7 linked regions of the Homo sapiens genome follow. The protein of the gene in region 5 purifies or fractionates together with the protein of the main gene of each other region. This does not show direct contact. Each region holds a gene or a part of one and is shown on either strand. Other genes may lie near its edges. The genes, in order: RP2, GNA13, MPHOSPH10, AATF, WDR36, GNAQ and UTP15.

The links.
Region 1: the proteins of WDR36 (region 5) and RP2 purify together in Homo sapiens (affinity purification with mass spectrometry; one large-scale study listed by BioGRID and IntAct). This does not show direct contact.
Region 2: the proteins of WDR36 (region 5) and GNA13 purify together in Homo sapiens (affinity purification with mass spectrometry; one large-scale study listed by BioGRID and IntAct). This does not show direct contact.
Region 3: the proteins of WDR36 (region 5) and MPHOSPH10 fractionate together in Homo sapiens (co-fractionation; one large-scale study listed by BioGRID). This does not show direct contact.
Region 4: the proteins of WDR36 (region 5) and AATF purify together in Homo sapiens (affinity purification with mass spectrometry; 2 studies listed by BioGRID, with this or other methods). This does not show direct contact.
Region 6: the proteins of WDR36 (region 5) and GNAQ purify together in Homo sapiens (affinity purification with western blotting, with the first as the bait; one study listed by BioGRID). This does not show direct contact.
Region 7: the proteins of WDR36 (region 5) and UTP15 fractionate together in Homo sapiens (co-fractionation; one large-scale study listed by BioGRID). This does not show direct contact.

Annotation. Positions count from the first base shown.
Region 1 is NC_000023.11:46,878,543-46,882,042, reverse strand, and holds part of RP2 (protein XRP2), read right to left. Parts: intron 2,358-3,500; coding exon 2,274-2,357; 3' UTR 1-2,273. UniProt on the Homo sapiens protein: Acts as a GTPase-activating protein (GAP) involved in trafficking between the Golgi and the ciliary membrane.
Region 2 is NC_000017.11:65,046,741-65,050,240, reverse strand, and holds part of GNA13 (guanine nucleotide-binding protein subunit alpha-13), read left to right. Parts: intron 1-3,500. UniProt on the Homo sapiens protein: Guanine nucleotide-binding proteins (G proteins) are involved as modulators or transducers in various transmembrane signaling systems.
Region 3 is NC_000002.12:71,133,634-71,137,133, reverse strand, and holds part of MPHOSPH10 (U3 small nucleolar ribonucleoprotein protein MPP10), read right to left. Parts: intron 3,187-3,500; coding exon 3,029-3,186; intron 2,509-3,028; coding exon 2,337-2,508; intron 1-2,336. UniProt on the Homo sapiens protein: Component of the 60-80S U3 small nucleolar ribonucleoprotein (U3 snoRNP). Required for the early cleavages during pre-18S ribosomal RNA processing. Part of the small subunit (SSU) processome, first precursor of the small eukaryotic ribosomal subunit.
Region 4 is NC_000017.11:37,014,954-37,018,453, forward strand, and holds part of AATF (protein AATF), read left to right. Parts: intron 1-3,500. UniProt on the Homo sapiens protein: Part of the small subunit (SSU) processome, first precursor of the small eukaryotic ribosomal subunit.
Region 5 is NC_000005.10:111,105,848-111,109,347, reverse strand, and holds part of WDR36 (WD repeat-containing protein 36), read right to left. Parts: intron 3,292-3,500; coding exon 3,205-3,291; intron 2,055-3,204; coding exon 1,909-2,054; intron 1-1,908. UniProt on the Homo sapiens protein: Part of the small subunit (SSU) processome, first precursor of the small eukaryotic ribosomal subunit.
Region 6 is NC_000009.12:77,794,312-77,797,811, forward strand, and holds part of GNAQ (guanine nucleotide-binding protein G(q) subunit alpha), read right to left. Parts: intron 3,338-3,500; coding exon 3,209-3,337; intron 282-3,208; coding exon 152-281; intron 1-151.
Region 7 is NC_000005.10:73,572,243-73,575,742, forward strand, and holds part of UTP15 (U3 small nucleolar RNA-associated protein 15 homolog), read left to right. Parts: intron 1-246; coding exon 247-382; intron 383-3,500. UniProt on the Homo sapiens protein: Ribosome biogenesis factor. Involved in nucleolar processing of pre-18S ribosomal RNA. Required for optimal pre-ribosomal RNA transcription by RNA polymerase I.

The sequences.
Region 1 (3,500 bases), on a different chromosome or scaffold from region 5:
AAATGACTGTCCTTAAAGACAAATTAAATGGGTAAAAGGTCTTATCTAACAGAAGAATACAAAATTTTAAGCTTTGGTTAATAGATAATAAGTGTAGTGGAAATTTTTAAATTAACATCTCCCTTATATGTTATATTCCTGAGTTGTTGCTCAAATATCATAAAGAACTTAGTTTATAGCTTTATATAACATTGCATTTTATTTTTGAAAAACAAAAAGTATTGTTATTATTTGAAATGTGAATAATGGTGTTTAATAATATCATCATGGCCAGGCGCGGTAGCTCACACCTGTAATCCCAGCTCTTTGGGAGGCTGAGGTGGACGGATCACCTGAGGTCAGGAGTTCGAGACCAGCCTGACCAACGTGGAAAAACCCCATCTCAACTAAAAATACAAAAATTAGCCAGGTGTAGTGGCGCATGCCTGTATTCCCAGCTACTCAGGAGGCTGAGGCAGGAGAATCGCTTGAACCCAGGAGGCGGATGTTGTGGTGAGCCGAGATCGCGCCATTGCACTCCAGCTTGGGCAACAAGAGTGAAACTCCACCTCAAAAATAATAATAATAATAATAATAATATAATCATAACAGGATGGAGTCCCTTTAATTTAGCTTAACTAAGGGAAAAACTAATGCCGTCTGACCACTATTTGCAAAGATCATTTGTAAATTGTGATCAAAATTATATTAAATCTGTCACCAACTTTTATTTGCACCTTATGAAATCATGTTGATTTTGTAGTATTGAATGCCCTTATAAAAGAATTGAAATGATGCAGTGCTAATGGTTAGCACAAGGCCACGCACAGGGTGAGCGCTCAATATTACTAATTAATTTAAAGTGAAAATCTTTTAATGTATTATTTCTGCACCTTAACATGCAATTCAATGTAGTAGTTATTAACCCAAAAATATCCAAAAACATTTTAAACATGAAAATACATTTTAGTAACAATCATAGGAATGTTTACAAGTGGTTATTTTCAGTCTTAGTTTTATCAAAATAGAATTAAATTTCAGATTCCTTTTAAAAATAGGCCTATGAAAGCTGATTTCATAATAGCTGCTATATGTGATGTGGATGGCAGATTCAGTGCCTTCTCACAAGTTCAACCTATTGACACCTCCTGAACCAATTACTTTAGATTACAACATACCCCTTAAAACAGAGTTTCCCCTGAAGACTGAATCCGTGCATCTGAGGATTGGGTCCAAGAATGTGGATTTTTAAACAAGTAGCTCTCCTCTGCTTCCTGGTAAATTATTATGATCAGGTAGATTTGGGAAACAGTGCTTTAAAGCAACCAAAATAATTTTATCATACTTGAACATTACTTGATATGAATGGCATATCTAATGAAAAATCAAATGTATCAAGCTTTTTAATAATCTGCATAGCTTATCATCATGCCTATTTCTTACCTAAAAGTCACAAGGTTTTGTTCCAATTCTCTTGATAGCCCACAAGAGCTAATAAAAGTTATCACCTTTTTAAAAACTGCTGGTGATTGGGCTTCTACAGTTTTAGCATTGCATATACCTTTTCTTATCAGGAAGCAGAAGAGTCATATAGCAGTTGTATTAAAAAACTAAACAATGTGTAATTTATTCAAATAATCATACTACTTACGAAGTAGTCTTTAAATAGCTATACCAACATCTGTTAGTAGAGTTACTTGCCAAGCTGGTTATCAAATGCCTATTTCTTTAAAAAATTCAATTTACAAAGTATTATGTCAACTCCATGTACAAAATCTCATTTGCCATATAATGCAACTAGGAAGCAATTATATAACTGGATATGTGTACATAAAAATGTGCATAGGTTCATTCTAATTGATCGACTAGTAACAAATCCCTCTAAATTGAAAAAGGTAAAATAAGCAATGATATGGAGTCTCAAAAAAAGTATCATGGAGCACTGAGGAAAGTTTAAATTATTAGAGATTTGAAAGAACATTTAAATAGGATTAAAATAATAAACTTTTAGCTACTTCTGTTTTCTAATAAGAATATCATATGCAGAGAAACAAAACTGCAAGCTTATTAAAATGGGTTAAATAGCTTTTAAGCTGATTAAAACTACTTAATTTAAAATGAATTATTTTTGAACCTCAAGTAAATGATGTAATACTCAACAATTTATTAAAAAATAAACTTTAAAAGTTTTAGCATTAGTAAAAACCATTGCTAATACACAAAAGTGTATTATCAAATTCTATATTCACAAGTTGGGAAAGGCTTAATACCAAGTCCTGGTTCCACATTGCACTTCATATTCCCATCTGTATATCAGCAAAGTTGTAGAAGCTGTCTACATCTCCAGATGCCGTCTCCTTGCTTTCAGATACAAACATCTATTTTAAATAGAAAATTAAAAAAAAAAATCAGTACCAAGTACTTCAGAATGCCAAAGCCCATGTTCTCCACAGAACAAAGTTCCAAGCTAATTATTCAAAAGAAGTTCAAGTACATCATTTATAATGACAATATTTAATCTGTAGATTTTCTTTAGAATTCATGTAATACACTTTGAATAGCTATAATGTAAATTAAGCTCTTTTGGAAGCACTTATATAATTAAGGTCTCTGCTTTCATAATACTTGAGTTGTATTTTATTACATCTGGACTTTTACAACACTCAATATTACGGAAGCTACTGAATAAGAGTCACTTAAAAAACTCTTTGTTTCTTCTATTTTCTAATAATAATCTCAGTAGTCTGAGCAGCAAAACTTGAGATTATCCCTTTCAAAGCTGCTAAAGATATATTATTATTTTTTATTTTATTTTATTTATTTTTGAGACAGAGTCTTGCTCTGTTGCCCAGGCTGGAGTGCAGTGGTGCAATCATGGCTCACTGCAGCCTAGACTTCTGGACTCAAGTGATTCTCCTGCCTCAGCCCCCCAAGTAGCTGGTACTAATGGTGTGTACCACCATGCCTAGCTAGTTTTTTTTTTTTTTTTTTTTTTTTTTTTACTTTTTGTAGAGTCTCACTATGTTGCCCAGACTGGTCTTGAACTCCTGGGCTCAAGCAGTCTTCCCGCTTCAGCCTCCCAAAGTGCTGGGATTACAGGTGTGAGCCACCACACCCAGCCTGTTATTTTTAAATAAACTATCTGCTAAACATCAATGAAGCAATACTCAATAGAACCCTTCTAAAGTAGCTTTTACAAATGTCAGCAAGGAATTAGAGCAGATGTGGGTTCTATTCTAGCTTTATCGTAAACTAGCATATGATGCTGACAATTTAATAAACCTCTGTGGGCTCAGTAACTACACCTGTAAAATGAGAAAGCTGGATTAGATAATCTCTAAATCATTCAGCTCTAAAAGTCCAAATTCTAACCATTTTATCTCTCAGTTTCCTTTTCTATTCAACCTGGTATTTTCCCTCTCCCTTAGTACTACTGTGATGATAAAATGAGATCAAAGACAAAGTACTTTAATTTTTGTAAATTCAAGGAATCATAAGCCAAATCAGATGATAAAACCAAA
Region 2 (3,500 bases), on a different chromosome or scaffold from region 5:
CCTCTGTAACGTCTCTTGCATTCATTCCCTCCTTTCCTCTATTTTGTGTTCTGCTACCTCTTGCTTGGACTCCAAGGCAGTCTTGTTCAAACACAGCATTGGTTTGCTCAGAAAGCTTTGGTGGCTCACCATTGTCTTCAGAACAGAGCTCAGCTTTTTTGTGGGAGTAAAGACTCTAGCTAGCTTACCTGTGATTCCAGCAATATATTTCATTAGGCCACTGGACATACTCTGTAATCTCTTGATTCCCACATACCCTAATTTTTTGCTTCTATAGCTCTCATCATGCGTAGTCCCTCTGCCAGAATTATTCTTTACCCTATCTGTTACTAGGTCTTACCCTTCACTTAATGTAGTGATAATCACACTAAATGTGGCCCATGGACCCCATGGACTGGAATGCTTGTTAAAACAAACAAGCAGATGCTCAGACTTTATACCTGAGGATCTGATTCTGGATTCTGGGATGGGACCCAGTGATCTGTGTTTTCAGCAAATAGCCATAGGTGGTTTGGATGAATTTGCTCCATGCCCCCTCCCTTTCCCCAGGAACAGTGCCTTAGGGGCTGTGTCTCTTTATTTGAAGCATCTCCAGTCTTCTTGGCTAGAATGGAGATCTCCGTGTCCTTTGCTTTCCCTAGCATGCTTACTCCTGTCACTCCTCACAGTACCCATTATGTGTGTTAGAGTCACAGCTTTCATGTGTGGCTGTCAGTCATGTAGAAGTCCTTTGGTATGCCTAGTTTGTCTTTTTCTCTCCTACTAGCATAGTGCCTGACACTTTTATTTCCTCGTTTTTCAGACATTCTTAATTACAAAGATGTTCTAAAAAAATAAAATACCTGTAATCCCAGCTCTTTGGGAGGCTGAGGCAGGCAGATCACTTGAGGTCAGGAGTTGGAAACCAGCCTGGCTGACATGGTGAAACCCCATCTCTACCAAAAACCAAAACCAAAACCAAAAATTAGCCAGGCATGGTGACATGTACCTGTAGTCCTGGCTACTCAGGAGACTGAGGCACGAGAATCGCTTGAACTCAGGAGGTGGAGGTTGCAGTGAGTGGAGATCATGCCACTGCACTCCAGCTTGAACGTCAGAGTGAGACCCTGTCTCAAAAAAATAAAAATTAAAAAATATGTAATATAATTTAATTCTACATTAAGTTCCTTCTGGGAAATATGGATTATTTCTATAATAGTTTCCTAATTTTCTAGGAAGTGGACAGTTCTTGTGTAATTATAATTTTTATTTGGGGGGGTTGAAATGTGTTTTGTTATGTTTAGCAGCATATTTTTGAATTTTGGATAGGAAAGGTAAACATCAGAAGAAATAGAGGTTAGCAGATAAAATAACTAAAATTAAAATTAACCTTTTCGTTTCAACTAATGATTTGATTATTAAACTTATTAATGCACATTAAAAACTGACAGGTTTTAAGGCCCTACATGACTTAACATTTTGCCTAAGATGAACAACTGCCCTTTAATCAATTTTCGGGACAAGGGATAGGGTGTTGATAACACAGCTTAGGTTTTTAGCAGACTACTCATTTGTTAGTAATAACTTTGGGTGTAAACATGAATGTTTTTCTTTCTAAGTTCCCAAAGGTAAACATTTCCTTTTTTGGTTAGTTCCATCATGGGTCAGCTAAATAGCTTACTGTGGAAAAGAAAAATACAAGATTCACATTCTCGTTATAACTTAAGGTACCTTTCTAGTTATTATAAATTAGCATACTGAGGATAATAGATTGTAAGAAGTGGCCTGTTTTAGTACTGAATTAAATATTTGAAATACTCTACTCTGGCTGTACATTCAACATAGCCTGCCACTGCACTTTTGAGTTACCCTGTCTTTAGAAAACCTTCTTATGTGACAATAGCTAGATAATTTGGTAACTCAGATGAATAAAGAGATGGGAGTCAGGGGTTGGCTGGATGATACAATTGGAGATATGGATGAAAACTGACAAAATGGCTAGGAGTCATTTCCAACTATTTTTTTTTGTTTAATTTATATTCACTTATTGAGAAATAAGGCAACACTTGTTACGTAGGACAGGACAGTGTGTGTGACAGTGGGAGGAACATCCCACAGCTTCCTACTTTCTGTAAACAGTTTAACATTGTCAGCATTAATACAACTTCCTGTAATGGCCAGTCTGTCTTTGCAATTCCTGAAACCAAAGTGTTTTTGCTAATCATGGTACCTTCAGTTAGACTTAATTCTTTTCTTTTTGTGCTTGAGGTTACTCTTCTTGAAGCCGATAAGATAGTGTATTCATTAACACAGAGATTTACTCCCTCAATCTGTGTAACAAAGTAACCATTTAGCTCCATGATTGGCCTGTAAAAAGGGGAGGTCCAACTAAGTATTCTAGAAACTTCAGTTTCAGCTAATTTTTTTTATTTATTTATTTGCACTGCAGCATGTATTGGAAATATAATACAATCAAGAGTCATTTGAAGCTCCTGTAGTCCCAGCTTCTGGGGAGACAGGAGGATTGCTTGACCTCAAGAGTTCAAGTCCAATGTGGGCAACATAGTGAGGACAGCCCCCTCCCTCTTAAAAAAAAAAAAGAATCAGAGTCATTTATTAATTAATGCTAATTTGGATTTGCTTTAAATATTAAAGAATTGCTACTTTCAGTTGTAAAATACTATGTTTCTTTTGGATGATTGGTCCATTTTCTCTATAAGTATAGTCAAGCAAGGACTTTGAGTTGCTAAAAACCTATTGGTTATCTTTTGATTCTAGGATTAGTGTTAAATATTTCATCCCATCTAAAATAAAGATTATATATAACATTAGAGATAGTAGAGGTTTTTATCTTACTTTATTAATATTTTTTAGAGACAGAGTCTCACTCTGTTACACAGGCTGGAGTGCAGTGGTGTGATCATAGTTCACTGTAACCTTGGGACTCCTGGGCTCAAGTGATCCTCCTGCTTCAGCCTCCTAAAGTGCTGGGATTACAGTAGTGAGCCACCTCACCCAGCCAGAGATAGTAGAGATTTTAAAGTTGAGTTTAATTTCCTTTTGATGAAATTGATCAGATGTCAGAGTGGTTACATTTTATCCAAATCTTGTAAACCCAGAGCTTTATGTTTATTTACGTTAAAAATGAAGTTTTTTTCTTTTTAATTAATTTCTTTTTTAAAATTTCCGTCAGTTCCTTTAAGTTTACACTTATAGTTTTAATACAACTTTGTGAAGTGTGTGTGCATGCACACATAGGTGGTATCACTTGTATTCTATTATGTTGAAATTTTCATGTTCGCATTTTTTTGGGTGAAAACTTGACTGGCTGTAGGATGTCTGGGTTCTTGGTGCTAAAGCTTCCGGAATTGGAAAATACTGTGCTGCTTTCTATATTACCTTTTATTGCTAAACAAAGCTAGGGGCACAATAATTTATGATTCTCTGAAAATGTTTATTAAACAACTAAGAGATGGAACAAGTAAATAGTTTTGTTATGAAAAGTAGACTTTAGTTTCAGA
Region 3 (3,500 bases), on a different chromosome or scaffold from region 5:
TGACATATATGGAGGTGACTATATGTTTTTTCTCCTTAATGTCTTGCAGTCAGGAATCATACTAGATTTTCTAATACTGATTCAAGAGAATAAGGTTCATGCAGTTGTGTGGCATCATTTTTCCACTGTGCTGTAGGATTTTTGCATCACTGTTCATGAATGAGACTGTGCTCTGTGTGTGTGTGTGTGTGTGTGTGTGTGTGTGTGTGTGTGTGTGTGTTTTAATGCTACCTCTGTCAGGTTTGGGTTTTCATGACCTAACAGTTTCAAAAAAAAAAAAAAAAAGGTTGAAAGTTCTACTTTATTCTTTATATGTGGAAATTGAAATAAATTATTTTTGATTTATTGAAACTTAACTTGAAGGTCTGATATAATTTCACAATAAAACCAAACCTTTCTTTCTTTATTTGTTGGGGAAGGGCGGGAGGAGTGGGGTGGAAGGATACTAACTCATTGATATTTTATAATGGTGCTTTTTTTCCCTTAGAATTTCTCTATCTTCTGGGGACAATCTGACAACCATGGATTTAATTCAGATTCTTAGATTTTAAAAACAATTCTTTTGATATTCTTGGTATCTTTCATTCTCTGCCTGTTCTCTTTTTTTTTTTAATTTTTTCAGACAGTCTCTAGCTCTGTTGCCCAGGCTAGAGTGCTGTGGTGCAATCATAGCTCACTGCAGCCTTGAACTCCTGGACTCAAGAGATCCTCCCCCATCAGCCTCTCGAGTAGCAAAGACTATAGGCACACACTACCATTCCCAGCTAACTTTTTTAATCTTTAGTGGAGACGGGCTTTTGCCCTGTTGCCCAGGTTGGTCTCGAATTCCTGGGCTCCAAACAATCCTCCCTCCTCAGCCTCCCAAAGTGCAGGTGTGAGCCACTGTGCCTGGCCCTATTCTCATTTTTATTGTGATAAAAATTTTAAGGTAAATAAATGATAGAGCCAAATTATTAGAGCCAGACTACATCTACAAAAATTTAATGAAATTTCACTTGTCTGAAATCATGACACAAAGAAACAATTTTTACCAACTTTGAAAGATATGTTTGTGATGGTATAAATTAAAATTCTGGCTATTTGGCACTCACAAAAATCTGTGGAGCACCTTAAAGACATAGGTGGTATCCGCTGGGCGCAGTGGCTCACGCCTGTAATCCCAGCACTTTGGGAGGCCAAGGTGGGTGGATCACCTGAGGTCAGGAGCTTCAGACCAGCCTGGCCAACATGGTGAAACCCCGTCTCTACTAAAAATACAAAAAAATTAGTTGGGCGTGGTGGCGGGCATCTGTAATCCCAACTACTCAGGAGGCTGAGGCAGGAAAATTGATTGAACCTGGGAGGTGGAGGTTGCAGTGAGCTAAGATCACGCCACTGCACTCCAGCCTGGGTGACAAGAGTGAAACTCTGTCTCAAAAAAAAAAAAAAAAAGAAAAAGAAAAAGAAAAGACATATGTGGTATCCTCCAAAACAGTGGAAACAGTTAAGATGCTCACAGGACAGCTTTATCAGGAGAGACATGCTATACATATAAAGATATTAGGGACAGAGAAAAAAACAATTATCTTTAAAAATTTTTTTATTTTTGAGACAGAGTCACACTCTGTCGCCCAGGCTGGAGTCCAGTGACACCATCTCGGCTCACTGCAACCTCCGCCTCCTGGGTTCAAGGGATTCTCCTGCCTCAGCCTCCCGATTAGCTGGGATTACAGGTGCCCGCCACCACACCTGGCTACTTTTTTTTTTTTTTAGTAGAGATGGGGTTTTACCATGTTAGCCAGGCTGGTCTCGAACTCCTGACCTGAAGTGATCCACCTGCCTCAGCCCCGAAAAGTGCTGGGATTACAGGCATGAGCCACCACGCCCAGCAGAAGCAACTATTTTACTCACAGGCCCCAAACTGAAATGCAGGCACTGATTTTGCAAATCAGATGCTTTCCATATGGCAAGATTTTTGGTTTTTTGTTTTAAGACAAGGTCTTGCTTGCCGCCCAGGCTAGAGAGCAGTGATGCAATCTTAGCTCACCGCAGCATCAACCTCCTAGGCTCAAGTGATCCTCCCACCTCAGACACCAGAGTAGCTGGACTACAGGCACACATCACCATGCCCAGCTAATTTTTGTATTTTTGGTAGAGACAAGGTCTCACTATGTTGCCTAGGCTGGTTCTGAACTCCTGAGCTCAAGCGATCCTCTTGCTTTGGACTACCAAAGTGTTAGGATTACAGGCGTGAGCCACTGCACCTGGCCAAGATATTTGTTTTCAAAGGATGGTTAATAGTTTTCAAAGGATGGTTAATATCAAGTATATTAAAAATTCCTTAAATTACTAATTACCTTTTCCTGTCTTTTTTCAAAGGAGGATTTAACTTCATCAGAATTTTTCTTTACATTTAAAACACCTGTATCTTCAGTTTCCGCATCATCTGGTAAAGCAAAGGTCACTCTTTTCAAGCTTTCTTTATGTTGTTTATTGTCTTCATTTTCTTGAAGGTCATCATCTTCATCCCTACAATACCAAAACTCTTATAAAAAGAAATATACTACTTTCCATTAGAAAAACAAAAGGAAACAAATTTTCCCTTAATAAAGTTCTTATTTTATATACCTAATGCAACCAAATACTCAGAACTTCCAAAATCATTCAGTTATTAAGGAACAAAAGGTATTATTTAGGTAAAACGCTATGTAAGAAACAGAAAAAAAAGTGTCCAACATATAGAAAATAAATTATTCATCAATCTATAATACAAATCTCTTATCTCACAAAAATAACAGGATTTTATTGACACAAAACCAAATCAAAGTTCCTGGTAAGGAAGGTTTGATTGCTACTACCAGAGATATTTTTCTTCATTAAGTGATCTCTAATGTCCCTTTACAGTCAGAGACTTTCCTCTGGCTATCTTGAGAATATCTGATATTAGAGAATAGAACTTGCTAAGACAAACACATTTGATAACTACGAGTACACACACATGATTGGGCAATTCCAGCTTACAATGTAAAGGATGGTTCAAAATACTCACGTTTCCGAAATACTTAGTTCTTCTGCTTCTTCTTCAGCAATTTCATCATCTTCTTTGTTTGAATCCAGCTCATCATCATGAACATTTGTTATGTCTTCATCACTTTCAACTGGATCAAAAAAATCTTTGTATTTCAGATTTCTGGAACTTTTACCTGACTAAAATAAAAAGATATTAAAAACTATTAATTAGGGATAGAAAAATATATTAACACATGCATATAGATTTGCATGTATATTGTATGTATATATTACTTTCTGACTTAATAACACTACAAGCTAATAACTAATAACCAAACTAATAACTAAATAATTATTAGGTGAAAATGGCAACTAATAACACTACCACAAAATTATAAGACCAACTGGAACATAAATTGAATGGAAGTACAGATTCATTTATAACTGATAAGATAGAGCACAATATTTCTTATCACTAAATCTTCTAACTACAATTAAATCTCTCCTAGAAA
Region 4 (3,500 bases), on a different chromosome or scaffold from region 5:
TTATCAAAGTATACCCTCTCCCACTCTTGGGATATTCATTGTAAGTTTTGGGGGTTTTTTTCTCCTTTTTAATTATTTATTTTGTTCTCTGCATTGCTTCCTTGAGTCTCTTTTCTATTTGTTTGGTTTGTGCATGAGGATTTCCTCAGATGCAGGCGATCCTTAACTGTCTGTTCATATTTAAGAGTAAAGCATTAAAGTTTATTATTCGGAATCTCTGAAACCTGGGCAGAGCTTTTTGGCTTCTTTAAATATAATTATGCTGTGAACTGACCTCTTTGTTAGAGTAGCCTTGGATGTCAGAATTTGTATTTGTTTGCTTTGTTTTCTATATATCTATTTGTTTGTGCTGCTATAGTAAAATACCACAGACTAGGTAATCTTAAAAGAACAGAAATTTATTTCTCACAGTTCTGGAGGTTGTAAAGTCCAAGAACAAGAAGGTGGCAGTTTCTGTTGTCTGGAGAGGGCTGCTGTCTGCTTCCAAGATGGTGCCTTGATGCTGAATTCTTCTGAGGGAATTCACATGGCAGAAGGTGGAAAGGCAAAAGGGACAGACTCCCTCCATCATGCCCTTTTAGAGGGACGCCTAATCCCATCCACGAGGGCAGAGCCTGCATGACTCAGTCACCTCCCAAAGGCCATTCCTTCCAATACTGTTGCATTGGGGATTAAGTGTTCAACATACGGATTTTGGGAGACACATGCAGAAGACCATAGCAACTTTGAAATCTAATTTTGGGGGTGGGAGGGCAGACACCATTCAGTTTCTTCCAGAAAAGGCTCCTCTGCTTTCCTGCCTAGGAAATTATAGAATGGGATGTTAGCTTTCTACAAATGAGGTGGGAGAAAGGGAGAGGTTTCAGAGATTAACATAGAGCCTTTCCCTTGTACCTCATTCCAGCCTTCTTTGCCTGGTATCCTCTATTCTGGAGCTTCTGTGGTTCAATATTTCCAAAGAATAAAATTTCTTTTCTCTCACGAGAGGAGGTGGGTGGTAGAGGTGGTTAGTCACTTGGCTGTGTGGGATAATGGAGGAGGCCCAAGTGGTTCTGCTCCTTCTCTTTTTCCCACCTTGCGTGGTAACTGCCAGAGAGCTGATCCTCACAGGAATTCTGCGGCCTAATACAATTAGCTTCATCTTCACCTTTATTCACTCTGGGCATTTGGGTGATAACTTCTCCATCTCCTTACTGTCTTGGAAAAATTTATGAAAATATGCACACATTAGTGCTCCTTTTCTCTTTTTTCTTAGGAGTTAATATTTATTTTATTCCTCAACTGTCTCTTAGAGGGGTTGAGAAGAGATAAACTAATGTGTTCAATCTGCCATTTTTAACTGTTTCTAGCATGCATTTTTTCTAATGAAAGTATTATAAATGTTGATTAGATGCTTAATAGTACTATTAGTCCTGTTCCTCATGTATATTGGTATGGGTTAAATAGGTTTCTGTGGCCAACCTGAAAACCTAACTGTATCTATGATTTTCCCTTAGAACTAGAGGTATAATCAAGCCTTTCCGAATTGATTATCTGGAGGAATTTTAACAGACTAGAGCAAAAACATTTTCTCTCTCTCCATTTTCCAAATCACATAGAAAATTACTACAAATACTATATCATCATTGTTGAAATAAAAAGCTCTAATAATTGTAACAGAAACTTGAATTTTAGTAGAAAGGTTTATTTGTAAAGTTAAAGCTATACAAATTAAAATCAGAAGTAAAATTGAATTCTTCAGCCAATATCTCAAATCTCTTTTTTTTTTTTTAGCAACTGTTTTGAAAGCAATTTTCTAATTAAATTTAAACCCAGTGATAGTGGTAGCTTTGGGAAAATAGTAATAGCCACGGGAATCATTTGTTTAACTGTATTTTTTGTTGTTGTTGCTTTCTTTTTCTTACCATGGACACAACAGAATCTTCTGAAATATTGGACTGAATAAACTAGACCTAGCTAGATAGACCAATAAAACAATCTTCCAAGTCATGAATGAGTAAAAATAGTTATGCAAAGCACTTGTGTGCGAAAATGCAGCTCAGAATATGTATAGTACACAAAGTGTTTGAAAGTAAATGCTGCACCAACTTGGTGTTGGAATTGCAGAGACCACTGCAGTGGGGAGCTCCAATTTCCAGCCTTTGGCAAGGGCATATTCTTCCCGAGGATCACCCTGTTGTGCTGGGGCAGCCTTCCATGAGCACTTGCACCCCGGTGACCCTGATTGCCCAGTCTCAAGGGATCTGAGAAAATTAGGAAAACCAGGAACGGTTGTTGTAATCTTTTGTATGGCTGGAACGAGGTAAGGGCAATGAAATGCAGTTATTCCATTATTTTCCTTCCTTTTTATTTTTCTTTCTCTTTTATTTCTTCTTCTTTATTATTATTAACCACTCCCCCTCACTCCCCCTACTCCTTGCTTTTGACAGAATATTGACTAGGAACCAGAAGCCCATTTCTGCTTAGCCTTAAGGGCAGCTGTTTACACAGCAGCAGTGTTACATAGGTTTACTGTGTCATATGTCTGTGTAACACTGGATTTGGATCTTGTATTTAGCTGCCAGAAGTGACTGTGATGAAGTAGGAGAGATAAACTGATAGATTGGCTGCCAGAAAGATGTTGGGAATCAATCAGATAAACAGGGTAGAGAAATAGCTTGCTGTTTTCTAGTGATAATAAAACCAGCGGCTTCTGGTCCCTGCATTCTTAAACATAATTGCTGTAGTAATAATGTCCAAAATAAGCAAATGAAAAAACATCATGGGAGGTTTTCTAATTGCAATTGAGATATCCTTTTCCCTTTTGCAATAAAGATTCATCTTTTGGAAGTGAATATTTTTTATAAATTTGTTTTACTTCTTCCAGTGCCTACTTACATAAACATATGAAATTAGAAAGAGATCTGCTTTCAGAGGAATTTATTTCTCTTTCTTCATTTGAACCACTGAAGCCCACAGGCTTCAGCTATTTGATTTGATGAAATATCTCTATTGCCACCATGCCTCACCTACAAAATCATTGCTAATTTTTATGAAGAAACAAGTTTTAAGGCCAAACCTGGATTATTGACAGATGATTAGCAGAACTAGTTTATCTTAGCGTCTTCTCTTAAATTTCTCTCAGAAGATTTTTGGAATTTTAATCTCTGTTTCTCTTTCTCTGCATATAGCACTTATAGTTCTATTATCGTAATTCAGGGTTTTTCTCCCTTAGTGTTTAACTTTTAAAACCATTGCTTCTCTTCGCCCAAGGACTTTAAGATTCAGTGCAGATTCTTAAGTCTGTATGAAAGGTACAGATGTAGATTTCAACTGGGTGCAGAGGAGTCAGGCTTAAAATGACAGTAGGAGAGTCATTTAGAATAACTCCCATGGAGTTAATTGTATTGGATGAGAGACTAATCCTCTGTGGTATATTTGCAGTATGCAAATGACTTTCTTTAGATTCCCTCTTAAAATTTGTGTGGCTATGAATGTGTTGGTATCATGTGTGGCTAAAG
Region 5 (3,500 bases):
AGATTTCTTTTAAAAAAAGTATTTTAGATGGGAAATTACTATGGTTAAAAAGCATTTTATCTTCCTAAATGAAACACAAACATTAAGCTGACCTATTTTGAAAAATTCATAAATGTTTATGCTATGTTGTATAGTTATACAATCAAGAAACTAAAGGAGCTTGTATGCTATAACCTGCAAGTAATACAGGCCCTACATTGTCCTGCTTTACATTTTTTTAGGGGAGTTATTGTTTTTAGTCGGCCTGCTCCTGGCATTCTCTTCTTCTAATTTATTCATTCTAATGTATTATCTAAGCCAAACAAAGCAAAAATAAATAAACCGTGAATGTTATCTTTGAGTAACAAATTGTACTTTAGTGCACAGGCTCTCTATACGTATTTTTGCTTATTACTTATTGGTTACTAGCTTTGCTCCAGATAGCTGAGACTGTCAGAAAAATGACTCAACTCCAGCTAAATATCATAGTATACATACATACTAAATGTTCTATAAGTGATCCCTATGGGCTATAAGAATATAGATTCTAGAATGAATTGTCTTAGGTTCAAATCCCAGCTCTGCCCCTTACTCGCTTCATTGATCTTAGGCATGTTGCTCATAAAGCCTGTTTTACTGTCCATAAAAAGCAGCTAACCAATGTACCATGCTGTAGGACTGTTGTAAGGAAAATATGAAATAATCCATGCCAGACAGAAAGCCTGGAACAAAGTAATCACACAGAAAATGTTACCTGTGATTATAATTACCACTACTATTACAACCATTATTCAAAACTATGTAGGTAAATGTCCCTACGGGAGCGTAAGATAGAATCTTTACGGTTTAGAAAATTATATAAAAGCTTAAGACTGGATTTTCATACTACAGAGAATAGAATATACAAACTTACAATGCAATTTGTATAAAATAGGGTCAAATGTTGAGTTACACTTTTAATAAGCATTTTCAAAAGCAGAGGCATCTATTAAAAACTATTAGAACTAATAAGTTCAGCAAGGTTGCAAGATATGAGATCAATAATGCAAAAATCAACTGCATTTTGATACACTCTCAATGAACAATCCAAAATAAAAAAACAAAACAAAACAAAACAAAAACAAAACAAAACAAAAAAACTCTACTTCAGTAACATTAGAAAGAATACTAGGAAAAATGTACCCAAAGAAGTGTAAGACTTATATACAAACAACTACAGAATATTGTTGAAAAATTAAGGAAGATCTAAACAAATGGAAAAACACCCCATGTTCATAGATCAGAGACAACACTCAAACTGATCTATAAAATCAAAATGAAATCCCTATCAAAATCATAGCTGCTTTTTTTTGCAGAAATTGATAAGCTCATTCTAAAATCCATACGGAAATGCAAGGGACCAGAAGAGCCAAAACAATCTTGAAAAAAGAACAAAAAACCTGGAGAAGTCACACTTCCTGATTTCAAAACTTACCACAAAGCTATCAAAATCAAGACAGTGTGGTACTGGTATAAGAACAGACATACAGATCAATGGAAGAGAATTCAGAGTCCAGAAATAAACTCTTACATACATGGTCAAATGACTTTCAGCAGAGGAAACAAGATCTTTCAATGGAGAAAGAATAGTCTTTTGAACAAATAGTGCTGGGACAACTGGATATCCACATGTAAAAAAATGAATTTGGACCCCTTTATCATACCATACACAAAAGTCAATTCAGAGAGAATAAATCTAAATATAAGAGCTAAAACTAGAAAACTCTTAGAAGTCACAGGAGCAAATTTTTGTGGCTTTGGGTTATGCAATGCTTTAAAATGTTAAACTACGTTTTTTCAGTCAATATTATGATGAGAAACCTTGAGTATAACAAGATTTCCATAGGAAAGTTTTAAAGAGAAGATACTCTTATAAACAAGCTCACTTACTGTTGCAGTTATGTCATCTTTCTTCAACTCTTTTGGCTTGAGAAAGTAAGCGCCTATTGTAGATTTCTGATAATTCCAGGTTGAGCAAGATAGCTTACCTTGATGGCAAGCAATGATACCATCCCAGTCACTTTCACGAGCTTCCTCTAAAACGTAATGAAAATCATAAATCAAATTACTTTTCATTCTGTTATTCATTTATTACTTATTAGGCATCCAATATTTCAGACACTAGGGATACAATGGTAAAACAAACAGGTAATATCTGATAGCAATATGTTTCCAATCTAACAAGAGATTATTTTTTAATTGACAAATAAAAAATGTGTGTATTTATGTGTTTATGGCATAGAACATAACGTTGTGATATGTATACATTGTGGAACGGCTAAATCAAGCTAATTAACATACCTAACAAGAGATTCTAATCAGAAGAAATTACAATAAAGTATGACAGTGTCTTATAAGACCACTCAGGAGATTTGGGGAAAGTAAATGGCTCTCTGGATGGAGTAGTAGAACAAGTAGAAATTACCTGGGGGGGATAACATGCACAAGAAAAAAATGAACAAAACGGAGGACAGCAAGTAAGTGTAGTATCTTCTTGGGAGGGATAGGAGTAGGGCAAGGCAATCAGGACCACACTACAAAGGGTCTTGAAAGTCATGTTAAGGAGATGAGATTCCACTCTAAAGGTGTTAAGAAGCCACTAAAAAATTTTAAGCAGATGTGTGATGTGATTCAAATGTTTTTAGAAACATGACTCAAGCTCTGAGAAAACAGAAAGGTGGTCATAATAACAACTTTCAAATAGAAATGGTGCCTCTACAGTAATTTCCCATGATAGATTTCACGCAACAAACCCATTATCTATATTTTTCTTAAAATCACTTCTTTGAAAGTGGCACAGGTCAAATGACATAGTATACTAAGACCTCAGTATTCTTAGATCTTAATTAGTCAGAGCTCTATGTTCTCATACTCTGCTGTTCCAGTTCTTTTTACATTAGTGACTTTCATTATACCAGGCATATGACAGAATAAAAAGGCTATAAAATCAAATATTATTAATACCTGTTATACAGAAGAGCAAAGCCTGATGTTAATAGATAAGAAGTTCACATTTAAAATAACTCATTTTTAGTCTTCACACAAGACCAGCATGCACCTGGGGTTACCTTCTGAATGCTTATTAATATTTGTAAAAGCATTTATTAAAACAGAAAATAAAACAGCATACAGTAGGAAATAAATGACAAAGGAGAACTTCTCAAAACACAGTTTGAAGTTACTTACCTGCTGCAAACTTTGTGATGGGTGGAAGTCTCACTGACATGGTATTCTGAAGTCCTTTACGTTTAACTCTCTTTTTATTTATTAATCCTAAGGATGGGGGAAAGGGGAACATACATAGCTATGAATCCTTCTTAATAAAAAGTGTATATAAAAGAAAAGCTATCAGTCTTGTAACTATAAAGTACAAGATATTCCCATTTAAGTCAGAAACAAAACAAAGATGTTATTACCACTGTTATTTTTTAATTCTAAGAAAAGTTATTTTAGATATTGTTAAAAATAATCTTAAAATTTAT
Region 6 (3,500 bases), on a different chromosome or scaffold from region 5:
AGGATTATTTTTGGTTATTTTAAAAGTCCTAAAATCAAATTTCAAGAAAGCAAAGAAGTAAGTTCACTCCATTCCCCACACCCTACTTTCTATCATTTACTTGTATCAGATAATAAAATGATAATCCATTGCCTGTCTAAAGAACACTTACCTCATTGTCTGACTCCACGAGAACTTGATCATATTCACTAAGCGCTACTAGAAACATGATAGAGGTGACATTTTCAAAGCAGTGTATCCATTTTCTTCTCTCTGACCTTTGGCCCCCTACATCGACCATTCTGCAAGGTTAACAATACTCATATTAATAACATATAAAGTAAAACTAAAAAGTCAACATAAATATAGCACTACTTACAAACTTAGGGAAAATATTCTCTTGAATGACGATGATCATCCAAGTCAATTCAATTAATACTTATTGAATAATTACTAATTTCTTATTACCTAATATTCAAAGTTAAAACATTCTGGGTAACACATCATGATGGTTTTAAGAAAGTTACCAGTGTGTACGAAAACTGTAACACTGTAAAAAACATCCTTATCTGTGCCAAGCAAAATGGTATTTTATTTAATGAAGCGCTGAAGAGTCCAAAACTGAATGAGTTTTGTGTTAAGCCCTACTGGCAAATACTGAACTTCAGTTTCTTTTCCTATAAAATCGGAAAAAAGATCCTCATGTATTTCTTATGGATGCTAGATATGACTACAAGTATACTTAAAATATGTGAGATGCTATACAATTCAATATGGGTGGTATGATGCTTCCACTAAATGCAGATACGACCCCACTCATCCTTTATCAGCAGGGTCGGCATGTTGGGCATTTTTTTCTTCCCAATATTGATAAGAATTTGGCACAGGTCCAGTCATGTCAGGTCACTTACTTGAAATAAAGTGTGAGTGAATGAAGATACTACAAGGTACAAGACGGAGGCCATCATGTGAACCATTTCAATCATTTGTTTTTAACACATCAATTCTGTGCTGAATTACTGCTCAGAAACCAACACTGACATCAATTAATTTGAGTGACAATGTATGTCTGAAAATATCTAGCAATGCTTGGCACTGAGTCAAAGTTTCTCCAAATTGTTGAATCCGTATCTTGAATGAAATGTATACAATGTTCACAGGAAAAAAATAGTCTCAGAGAATGAGCGGTTTAGGTACAAAAATTTGAAAGTAGGGCTCTTTAAACATTTGTTTAAAATTGCAGTTGCTCCTGGTGTTTTCCTGCCTCCTGACATTAAACCTAAACAAGAACTAAGATCTTCTAAGTCACTACTCGTAAGCCTAGTAAGGCACAGGAGAGAGATCTAAGGGGCAAAACAATGCATTCAGGGAGATCCACGTACTATGGACATCAAAGCCAGAATTCTTAGATCTTCGGAAGTATTAAAATGCTGGCTCTTCCCTAATGCCAAGGTGTGAATAATACGCTACTAATTTACGTGAAATCCTCATTCCATGAAACTCTGTCACACTGGGCCGTAAAAGATGCTTCTGATGGTGGTGGAAAATTATACTTCTAAGTCATTACTTTTACTGTAGTGGCAAAAAATGTACTTCAAAAGCCAGTGTACAAAACGTGGAAAAAACAACATGTAATTGTAATCTGGTTTCAGAATCCACTAATTGCGAAGCAATAAGGAGATGAAAATCCCCATGAAATGCTATGTTTTCTAAAAATATTTTGTAACATGGAGGAAGGAAATCTGGGTGTCTCAAATTAAAGATTTCTAAATACCATAGACTTAAAACGTAAGTAATATAGAATGCTGGAGCTACAAGGAACCCTGAGGATCATCTAATGCAATACAACCATTTTATAGATTAAAAAACTGAGGCTCAGAAATAGTTTCAAAATGCCACCTACTTTGTGGCAATATCTATTAGAACAATGTATGGCAGCCAGATTTGACCTCAGGTACAGAGGCCGATTAGAAGAAAACACAGTGTCACGGCAAGGAATGAAGGTGGGCCTGCTAATCAGAATCACTTGGCAGAGTGACACAGGAGATAATAACTTCTGCTTCATAACCAATATTGCACACATCCATCTTCAATGGGGTGGGCGCTCCTAGAAAATCAACTCTCCACACTCCAAGACACATTCTCATTTCTCAAAGCACCATGTAGTTTGTATTCTAACTAAAAGTACAACTGAGTGATTGCATAATAAGAGATTGAATGAAAGTACATCAGTATTGTTTATTTTTTCTCATCCTAAAAACAAAACAACAGAATGCTTCTGCTGAAGTATTATCCAGACAGAACACCAGCAGTGAGAGATGAGGTAATAAATTTTCATTCTATTTTGCTAGGTAAATACAGACTAGGTTAATTAACCCATTTTCAAAATCATGTATTTCAAAATTTTTCAAGCAACATATTTTATGAATACAAAACATCACATATTTTTCTTGCTACTGAAAAATTTTGCATTGGTACCAGAGGACGTGGGGAAAACACCAGCATGAAAACTTCTGACACTACTTAATTTCTGTGATTGACAGCATCATATGATCATTCATAGCTTACATAATTCTAAAAACATATCCATTGTCCTTACAGTTAAAATGATTGCCCAAAAAATTACAGTTAAGACCAATGGTTTACTAACCGATTTTACTCAACCACAAGCAAAACTAAGATTTTATTGATTTCTTAGTGATTTAAATTGAAATGCCAAATGTTCTAGTACAAGTACATCTCTCTCTTTTGTTTTTTTTTGAGATGGAGTCTCGCTTCGTAACCCAGGCTGGAGTGCAGTGGCGCAATCTCGTCTCATTGCAACCTTCGCCTCCTGGGTTCAAGTGATTCTCTCACCTCAGCCTCCCAAGCAGCTGGGATTACAGGTGCCCGCCAGCATGCCCGGCTAATTTTTGTATTTTTAGTAAAGAAGGGGTTTCACCATGTTGGCCTGGCTGTTCTCAAACTCCTGACTTCAGGTAATCCATCCACCTTATCCTCCCAAAGTGCTGGGATAACAGGCGTGAGCCACCGCGCCCGGCCTCCAGTACATCTTTCTGTTATTTCCTCCCTCAGGGATATGTCATTTTATTTGTATAACTAATGATAATAATTGGTATAAAGCCTATCTTGTTTTGAAGCCTACACATGATTCCAGTATTTATAGAGTTTACCAAATGTACTCAAGGCATAAAAGCTGGGAAATAGGTTTCATGGACTCAGTTACTACCTGAAAATGACACTTTGTAAGTCAAAGGGGTATTCGATGATCCCTGTGGTGGGGACTCGAACTCTAAGCACATCTTGTTGCGTAGGCAGGTAGGCAGGGTCAGCTACGCGGTCCAAGTCATTAAGATAGCTAGAGGAGGGAAGACACAATGAGAATGTCAGTGACACCATCACACCAAAGCTGTCTACGGAAAGGGAAGGACAAAAATGAGTCCTAACAGAGAAGTAAAGAAGAGAAAGAAAAATATCAGAAAGTGGTAGAGGAGTCTGTGGAAAAGAAAGATAAAGTCAAC
Region 7 (3,500 bases), about 38 Mb from region 5:
TTTTGCTGGAATTTATGTACACTTCACAAATATTATTTAATGGTCATAACAGTTCTGTGAGGTAGGAACTGTTATTACCAATGACCCAGGAAGTGGTGCATCCAGGATTTTACCAGGCAGCCTGGCCTGGACTCCCTCACTCAGCCTCCATGCTTTGTGGAGTGTCCAGAGAAGAATGCTTTTCAGATCTTTAATATGTTGAATCTGTGGGCAGAATATCCAACTAACGATGATTTCTTTTTATAGGAGGTCGTTATGTTAAAGTCTGGGACATGTTAAAAGGAGGACAATTGCTAGTATCTTTGAAAAATCATCACAAAACCGTGACATGTTTATGTCTAAGCAGCTCTGGACAGAGGTTACTCTCTGGCTCACTGGATAGGTTGGCATTTTAATTTTTTTGTATATTATTATTAGTGTACACCTGTTTACTGCTTGAGGAAATGAGTTATTTCAGCAATATTTGTGATAAGTATACAGATAATGATTTCCAGGAGAAAAAAACCTGTTGAGTTGAAAATAGTTTTGACCTTTTGTTTACATATAGCTACTTCTTTTCTTTTCTTTTTTTTTGAGACAGAGTCTCACTCTGTCACCTAGGCTGGAGTGCAGTGGTGCAATCTCGGCTCGCTGCAACCTCCGCCTCCCAGGTTCAAGTGGTTCTCCTGCCTCAGCCTCCTGAGTAGCTGGGATAACAGGCACGCGCCACAATGCCCGGCTAAGTTTTTTATTTTTAGTAGAGACGGAGTTTCACCATGTTGGTCAGGCAGGTCTTGAACTCCTGACCTCGTGATCCGCCCACCTCAGCCTCCCAAAGTGCTGGGATTACAGGCGTGAGCCACCACACCCGGCCACCCATAGCTACTTATTTTCTCCTTTGACACAATTTGTTTTAACTTGTATACTTAAACAACATTATTGAACCATTTGAATGATAATCTTTCAAATAATGTTATTCTATAAACCATCTTTTAAAATCATTATTGTACATTCATATATTTTGAAGTTTTTTTTTTTTTTTTTGAGACAGAGTCTTGTTCTGTTGCCCAGGCTGGTGTGCAGTGGCACAATCTGGGCTTACTGCAACCTCTGTCTCCCAGGTTCAAGCGATTCTCGTGACCCAGCCTCCCAAGTAGCTGGGATTACAGGTGTGCAGCACCATGCCTGGCTAATTTTTGTATTTTTAGTAGAGACGGGGTTTCGCCATATTGCCCAGACTGGTCTCGAACTTCTGGCCTCGTGTGGTCTGCCCACCACGCCCTCCCAAAGTGCTGGGATTACAGGTGTGAGCCACTGTGCCTGGCCTGAAAAGTTTTTTAAAAATTAGATAAATTAATTTTTTTTTTTTTTTTGAGATGACATCTCGCTCTGTTGCCCAGGCTGGAGTGCAGTGGTGGGATCTCAGCTCACTGCAACCTCTGCTTCCCGGGTTCAAGCGATTCTGCCTCAGCTTCCTGAGTGGCTGGGATTATAGGCGCTTGCCACCTTGCCCGGCTAATTTTTGTATTTTTAGTAGAGACAGAGTTTCGCCGTGATGGCCAGGCTGGTCTGGAACTTCTGACTTCAGGTGATCCACTCACCTTGGCCTCCCAAAGTGCTGGGATTACAGGCATGAGCCACCACGCCTGACCTAAAAGTTAGATAGCACATTTTATTTAGCCTAATATCTAATGTAAAAATAAAATATATATTACATATAAAATATAATTTCAGTATGTAATCTATGTCAAAATTATTAAGATACTAGAAATAAATTAAGCATCTAAACATGTGCACTATGATACAATAATCATATTTTAGGTTGGTACAGTGGCTTACACCTGTAATCCCAGTGCTTTGGGAGGCTGAGGTGGGAGGATCACTTGAGGCCAGGAGTTTGAGACCAGCCTAGGGAATATAGTGAGACCCCATCTCTACAAAAAATTAAAAAAATTAGCTGGCCACAGTGGTACACACCTTTAATCATAGCTACTAGGGAGGCTGAGGCAGGAGAAGCACTTAAGCCGGAGTTTGAGGTTGCAGTGAGCTGTGATAGTACCACTGTACTCTATCCTGGGTTACAGTGATACCCTGTCTCTAAAAAAAAAAAGATAATATTTTATAAAAATTACTGTCTCAGTTTTTAAATTAAAATTAGATAAAATAAAAAATTTAGTTTCTCATTTTCACTAGCCACATTTCAAGTGGTCAGTAGCCATGTGCAGCTAGAAGTATGGCACAGTTCTAGAATTTACATGATTTATTATTAATTTTTTTTTTTTTTGAGACAGGGTTTTGCTCTGTCGCCCAGGCTGGAGGGCAGTGGCATGATCTTGGCTGACTGCAACCTCCACCTCCTGGCTTCGAGCGATCCCCTCGCCTCAGCTTCCTCAGTAGCTGGGACCACCGGCACGCGCCACTGTACCTGACTCATTTTTGTATTTTTGTTGAGATGGGGTTTTGCCATGTTGCCGAGGCTGGTCTCAAACTCCTGAGTTCAACAGATCCTCCCACCTCAGCCTCCCAAAGTGCTGGATTACTGGCGTGAGCCACCGTGCCCGGCTTACATGATCTATTTTTTATTATTTTATTTCCATATTTTCATTTTTTTCTGCTCTTATGAAAAACTTTAGTTTTCAGCATGTTAATTAAAAAGTATACAGTCATCTCTTGGTAACTGAGGAGAATTGGTTGTGGATGCCCAAGTCCCTTATTTAAAATGGCATATTTGCATATAACCTACACACATCCACTGTATACTTTAAATCATGGCTTGCTTATTTGTAATACCTAATACAATGCAAATGCTATGTAAATAGTTGTTACACTGTATTTTAAAATTCTGTATTGTTTATATATTTATGGATATTTTCAATCCATGGTTGGTTGAATCTGCAGATGTGGAACCTGCCATAAGAAGGATTGACTGTACATATTTTAAAAGCTAGAAAATATTTTTAATACAAAGGAATTTTTTATGTAAATACATGGCAAGTTTACACATGTTACTGAAATCATGTTACTCGGCAATTTGGGACTTGATTCTTAGGTATGTTCCTAAAAGCTAAGTGTAAATTGGCTCTATTTGTGGTGGTTTCAACCAAGAGTGATTTTTGTTCCTCAAGGAACGTTTGACAATATCTTGAGAAAGTATTGTTTTTTATCACAACTCATGGTACTTACCATATAGGGGATAGAGGCCAGGAAGGCTGCTAAACATCCTACAATGCACAGAACAACCCCCACAAAAAAGAATTCTGTGCCCCAAAATGACAGTAATTCTGAGGTTGAGAATCCCTGATCTTTGGCTTCATGTGTACTTTCTTTCTTTCTTTTTTTTTTTTTAATTTATTTTTTTAGAGACAGGGTTTCTTCAAGTTGCCCAGGCTGGTCTTGAACTCCTGGGCTCAAACAATCTGCTGTCCTTGGCCTCCCAGAGTGCTGGGATTACAGGTGTGAGCCATCACACTTGGCTTTGTGATGTGCTTTCATTGATAATTTTTTCTTTTTTTTTTTTTAAG